Linked DNA regions of Homo sapiens. The protein of the gene in region 2 purifies or fractionates together with the protein of the main gene of each other region. This does not show direct contact. Each region holds a gene or a part of one and is shown on either strand. Other genes may lie near its edges.

Region 1 (3,500 bases), on a different chromosome or scaffold from region 2:
AGAATCATTTGAAGCTAGAGGCGGAGGTTGCTGTGAGCCGAGACTGCACCACTGACCTCCAGCCTGGGCGACAGAGCTTGACTCTGTCTCAAAAAAAAAAAAAGAATTTTGACTACTTTGGTGAACCATCTAAATTTTAAAAATTGATGGTCCAAAATTCATATGTAATATAGATTCCTACTTCTTAATCATTTTTTTAAACTATGGTCACCATTTTTCTCATGTAATGCCATACAGTTAACTTACATAAATAATTATGCCATTTTTACTTAAAATTTAAAAAAATTTTTTGGCTACTAAAGTGAAGCAGTGGTAACAGACAAGGAACAAAGAAATTTATAACTGTTTGTGATTAATTAGTTATTTAATCATATTTTCAAAGGAAACTTTATATCACTACTTTAAGTAGAAAACTTATGTCCACTGGGCACAGTGGCTCACGCCTTTAATCCTAGCCCTTTGGGAGGCCCAGGCAGGAGTATTGCTTGAGGCCGGGAGTTCAAGACTGACCTAGCCAACATAGCGAGACCCTGTCTCAAAAAAAAAAAAAAGAAAAGAAAAACTGAATGGGCATGGTGGCTCACGCCTGTAATTCCAGCACTTTGGGAGGCCCAGGCGGGCAGATAACCTGAGGTCAGGAATTCAAGACCAGCCTGGCCAGTATGGTGAAACCCTATCTCTATGAAAACTACAAAAATTATCTGGGCTTGGTGGCATGCACCTGTAATTCCAGTTACTCGGGAGGCTGAGGCAGGAGAATCTCCTGAACCTGGGAGGTGGAGGTTGCAGTGACCCGAGATCACGCCACTGCACTCTAGCCTGGGTGACAGAGTAAGACTCCGTCTCAAAAAAAAAAAAAAAAGAAAAAAAGAAAAGAAAACTAGTGTCGCTTGCCAGAAATAGAAGGCAATAATATTATTAAATTCCAGCTAATAGTGTTGCCTTTTGAAGACTCTGCTATTTAGGATTGTTCTCTCTTTGTTAAAAAGAGAAATAGAGAAAATATGAAATGTTAGATTAGCATATTAGCACTATATAAACAATACAATGTTTGGTGAAAGAAAAAAATATGATTTTTTTTTTTTTTTTTTTTTTTGAGACAGAGTCTCACTCTGTTGCCTAGGCTGGAGTACAGTGGCGCAATCTCAGCTTACTGCAACCTCCCGGGTTCAAGTGATTCTCTTGCCTCAGCCTCCCGAGTAGCTGGGATTACAGGAGCCCTCCACCACCCCCAGCTAATTTTTGTATTTTTAGTAGAGATGGGATTTCACCATTTTGGCCTCCTGACCTCAAGTGATCCATCTGCCTCGGTCTCCCAAAGTGCTGGGATTAAAGGTGTGTTCAGTTATTGTAGAAGGTCACATAGGTATAAGTCATAGCATTGCCCTTCACTCTATGTACATACACCACTCATCTTTTACATATATACATATTTTTCAGTCATAAGAACTAAAACACAGTTATTGCTAAATGATGGAATCTGAGTACATGTGATATTTTCTTCATGTTTTCTATATTTTCTACATTGACCATGTAATCTTTAATAATAAAAAAATTATATACATTCATGTACTATGGGAAATAAGGAAGAAAAGAAAAAAATTTAAGCTTTATTTACTTTTAATGTTAAAAAAATGGCTGCCAACAGAATAGAGTGTAAATTACTTTATGTGGCACAAAATCCTTCACAGTCTGTTTTGTCTACCTTGCCAATTTTATCTATATACATACTTTTCCTCCTGAAAGAGATTAAAATATAGCTATGTATTAGAATGTTTTTAAATGTCTGTGGCCAACCACAGGAGACTTAAAAAAATAGATAATTGTGAGATTTGTTTCTGAAGACTACATAGTTGTCAGATTATAAACTTTGCTTCTTATTCTCTGATTTCCTGATTTTAGGATGCCAACCCTGTGGTAATTGAGCCATCATCTGTTTTGAATGGAGGAAAATACTCATTTGGAACTGCAGCCCATCCTATGGAGCAGGTCGAAGATAGAATTGGAAGCAGCCTCAGTTACGTGAATACTACAGAAGAGAAATTTTCAGACAACATTTCTACTGCATCTGAAGCCTCAGAAACTGCTGGCAGCGGTAAATATGACCTATTCCCCTGAGGTTTATTGGTTTATTCCCCCTGGATAGGTCTTTCTTTTCTTTTCTTTTTTTTTTTTTTTTTTGAGACTGAGTTTCACATTTTGCCCAGGCTGGAGCGCAGTGGCGCGATCTCTGCTCACTGCAACCTCCACCTTCTGGGTTCAAGCGATTGTCCTGCCTCAGCCTCCTGAGTAGCTGCGATTACAGGCACCCGCCACCACGCCTGGCTAATTTTTGTATTTTTTTAGTAGAGATGGGGTTTCACTATGTTGGCCAGGCTGGTCTTGAACTCCCAACCTCGTGATCTGCCTGCCTCGGCCTCCCAAAGTGCTGGGATTACAGGCGTGAGCCACCATGCCTGGCCTCCCCATGGATAGTTATTAAGGCAGTCTAATTTGACAGAGGCTGTAGTGAATATGGTAATAGGAGATCAGGCTTCCATTAACAGAAATAAGTTTTGAATGAAATGGTCAATTGTAAAATTCTTGAATATATTAGTATTTTTACAAAGAAAACCTCTTTTCCATATTATACTTCATTAAATCTCTCAATATGGAAATATTTTCACTATTTTCTTTTGAGACAGGATCTCGCTCTGTCACCCAGGCTGGAGTACAGTGGCATAATCACGGCTTACTGCAGCCTCTGCCTCCTGGCCCCAAGCAATTCTCCCACCTCAGCCTCCTAAGAAGCTGGGACTACAGGCACGCGCCACCATGCCCAGCCATTTTTTGTGTGTTTTTATTTTAGGGATAGGGTTTTGCCATGTTGCCCAGGCTGGTCTCAAACTCCCAGGCTCAAGCAGTCCTCTGGCCTCAGCCTCTCAAAGTGCTGGGATTACAGGCATGAGCCATCACATGCGGCTATTTTCACTATTTTCATCAATCAAGCCCCATCTTTCCCTATTGCTATTAAATTATTTAGTCAGTAAATTTAAATTTTCAAAGATAGTCATCTCCAGGACTCTCTCTAGCCATAAACATAATTAAATTAAATGCACCCCACATCAGATTCTATGTATATTTCAGGCCAAAATATGGAGATTATTTTGTTAAAATACTGAGAAAGAATTCAGATGCCTCCCATAATTCCCTTTAGGCCTTGGTACTTACCTAAAACTTCATGTTTCCACACCTACAAGGAAGATGCTGTGGTATTTCTATGGCCCAGCTGAATTGAGTTGATTGCTGTTATTCTGGTACAGTAGCAGAACCCTCAATCTTACCCTATTGTTATTTATTTATTTACTTAAAGAGACAGGGTGTCACTCTGTTGCCCAGGCTGTAGTGCAATGGCATGATCATAGCTCACTGTAACCTCCAGTTCCTGGGCTCAAATGATCCTCCTGTCTTAGCCTACCTGGTAGCTGGGACTACAGGTGTACACTGCCACACACAGCTAA
Region 2 (3,500 bases):
GTGTGGTGGCACATGCCTGTAATCCCAGATACTTAGGAGGCTGAGGCAGGAGAATCGCTTGAACCCAGGAGACGGAGGTTGCGGTGAGAGCCGAGATCGTGCTACTGCACTCCAGCCTGGGCAACAAAGCAAGACTCTGTCTCCAAAAAAAAAAAAGGAAAGCAGAAGGGGGCATTTTCCTGTCTTCAAAATACAACCTCCTGCTAAGACTAGCAAGTCAGCAGAAACTCATTGCATTTGGGCTTCTGGTTACTAAATGAATTAAGAGACACCGAGTTCCATCCTTAGATGTCCACATAGATCCCATTGATCAAATAATCCAGTCTTGAGTAACGTTTCCTGCGGAGTGATTCCGAGAGGATTCTACCCAGGAGGACGAGGCCTATCACCAGGAACAGGACACCAAAGAGCAGGGACCCGATAAGAAGCCATTTTTCAAATGGAAGGCCGTACTGATTTTCTGGAACACTGCCCTGGGAGGAACTGCCTGGACTGGCCTCCCTACCTTCCCAGGAAGCAGTTTTATTCATAGTGGAAGACTCCACATTTGACATAGAAAGTGCAGTAGGGTTATACACATTCCCTGTGTTCAAAGTTAGGTTGGAGATTTCTGTAAACGGTATGGTTTCTAAGCTGCCTTTCGAGTCCGTAGGTGCCTGAAAGGTGGTAGTCAGAACTGCTGTTGTAGCCATTGCTTGGAGTGTAGCCGCAGCCCGTGTAAAAACTGTAGAAATGAGGGTCGTGGGAGGCTGAGAAGTGACAGTGGTTACAGGTGGAGCTGTGGTGGCCAGCTGTGGCTGGGAAGTCCCAGAAGGTGTCACTGAAGCATTGGTGGGTAGAAGGGTGGCGGGCTTTGGAGTAGCCGAGGTGGTATGTGGAGAAGCAACTGCCACCGTAGCTGGGAGCGCACTCACATTTTCAGGCAGCAGATGAGCTATTTCTTGATCAGAGGAAAATTGTGAACTCTGAGAATGGCCTTTTTCCTTATAAGCAAGGAGCTGGGCACTTGCTTCATCCATCTTAAATAGTTTCTCCAAGTGATCTGAGGATCCAAACTTCTGAGAAAGTGTGTCTCTCCATGAGATATCGGTGGGCTTTGAATAATCTGTGTGATGATGGGCTAGGGGAGTGACTGCTTGTGAAAATTGGCCATGTAAGAGAGAATCTTCCTGGGGTAACTCTTGGCTTGGCAAATTTCTGGTCAAAGATGGAAAATCTGAAAATGTATGGAAAATAAAAGGAAGGCTTATGTAACTCCATGCTACGGTAGGTTAAAAAAATACAAACATATCAGCTTGTTCAAAAGATCCCTAAACTGGTTGGCCATGGTGGCTCACGCCTATAATCCCAGCACTTTGGGAGGCTAAGGCAGGAGGATGGTTTGAGGCCAGGAGTTGGAGACCAGCCTGGACAACATAGGGAGATCCTGTCTCTTAAACAAAAAAATCTCCAAACTGTTGATACTTGACATTTCATTGAAATGTGTGCAAAATGGAAAAACACAAATTGCTAAATGAGAATCTGATAACGCCGCCTCTCTACCAGATGCTGTGGTTTATTTCTAGCATGATAGGACAGAAGAGAAGAGAAATGTGTGGAGGAGGACCAGGCAAATTAAGGAAAAGGTGGGAGGTGCACAGCAGAGAAGCCGGAGGGGCTCAGCAGGGCAGCAAGAGGCTTACAAAGATGGAAAGGGTTCTCCGTCTTCCTAAGGGGCCAAGGCCAGGGAAAAAAGTGGGCCGGAGGGTGACCTGAGCAGGAAAGGTTGGCAGGGAGAATGCGGGGGAAGGTGTGGGCTTCTGCAAGACATGCCACCTAAGACTGAGATGACAAATGGGGAGCAAGTAATCATCAGGAGAGATTTCAGTGGGGGCATGAGGCAGGCAAGAAAGGTATGTGGAAGCTGTGGGAAATGAGGCAATAGAGCAGGAGAGAGGGAGCAGAATCCCTGTGGTGTGTCTCTGACAGGGAGGAGGAGGAGGGGCCAGGCAGGGTCTGGTCTCCGCTCTGAGCACTGAGGCCACAGCAGCAGCAGAACAGCAACAACGACAACAAAAAACCAGAGATATATCGTTCCAGCACTGTGCGCAGAGGAGGGAGGCTATCTGGGAGATTTCATTTGGACTCTCAAAGATTAGAATTTTGGAGCCAATGTCATAGGTCATGAGGATGATGGGACCAATATTTGAAATCATGATGACCACACTGTAGACACAGAGGGCAGAAAAACCATACAGTCCCGATGCCTGCTGAGGAGAAACCAGCCCCAGATCCTGCTCCTGCTCCATGAAGCTTAGAATTTTTCTCCTGATCACACACCCCATTTATCACAGCTCAAACTGGAAAGACCTGTTCAAGCAATCAAGTGCAGGGAATGACCAGGTGAATTGCCATGTATCACTCTGCTGCTAGGCTAACCATCTCACATTAGAACTGCAGAAAACACAAGGAAAGAAGCAGAGGAATGTCCTGGCATTTCTCAGTCCACTCACTCCTGCTCTCTTTTCCTTTTTCTTCCTCAATTCACCTCCATGCCAGTTTCCAAACTGGTCCTCAGTCTCCTCTTTCCTACAGACGGATCCAGAGGCAGCTACGGATTCATGCCATCTCGTGACTACTCTCTAAGCCTTACCCCTCTGAGAGGTTCTTTGCACTGTCACTCTGTCACTTATTCGTCCATCTAGGACAGGGCTCAGCAAACTACGGCCTGATGGACAAATCTGGCCTGCCATCTGTCTTTGTATGACTTGCAAGCTAAGAATGGTTTTTACGTTTTTTAAAATTTTTATTTGTTTTGAGACAGAGTCTCACTCTGTCGCCCAGGCTGGAGTGCAGTGGTATGATCTCGACTCACTGCAACCTCTGCCTTCCAGATTCAGGCGATTCTCCTACCTCTGCCTCCTGAGTAGCTGGGATTACAGGCGCGTGCCACCACACCTGGGTGATTGTTCTATTTTTAGTAGAGGTGAGGTTTCACCATGTTGGCCAAGCTGGTTTCAAACTCCTGACCTCAGGTGATCCACCCCCTTCGGTCTCCCAAAGTGCTGGGATTATAGAGGTGAGCCACCATGCCTGGCCAGTTTTTATATTTCTTTTAATGGCTGAAAAATAATCAAAAGAAAATTGTGTGACACAGGAAAGGTATACAAAATTCAAATTTCTGTATTTCAAAACCTAAAGTACTGGTGTGAAAAGCCTAAAATACTATTTGGCCCTTGGCAGAAAAAGTTGGTGGACATCTGCTCTAGGATATAGTATTCTACTCTAAAGTAGAATTTGGGTCAAATGAAATATATTTGAAAATATATATATATATATTTTTGAGACAGGGTCTTGCTCTGTCACCCAGGCTGGAGTGCAGTGGCACAAACACAGCTCACTGCAGCCTCAACCTCCTGGGTTCAAGCAATCCTCCCACCTCAGCCTCTTGAGCAGCTGGGGCCACAATGCCATGCCACCATGCCCAGCTAATTTTTGTATTTTTTGTAGAGACAGAATTT

The links. Proteins that work in one complex are often made in the same cells at the same time.
Region 1: the proteins of MANSC1 (region 2) and USP32 purify together in Homo sapiens (affinity purification with mass spectrometry; 2 studies listed by BioGRID and IntAct, with this or other methods). This does not show direct contact.

What each region holds. Positions count from the first base shown.
Region 1 is NC_000017.11:60,224,634-60,228,133, reverse strand, and holds part of USP32 (ubiquitin carboxyl-terminal hydrolase 32), read left to right. Parts: intron 1-1,902; coding exon 1,903-2,095; intron 2,096-3,500. UniProt on the Homo sapiens protein: Deubiquitinase that can remove conjugated ubiquitin from target proteins, such as RAB7A and LAMTOR1.
Region 2 is NC_000012.12:12,329,743-12,333,242, forward strand, and holds part of MANSC1 (MANSC domain-containing protein 1 isoform 1 precursor), read right to left. Parts: intron 1,217-3,500; coding exon 285-1,216; 3' UTR 1-284.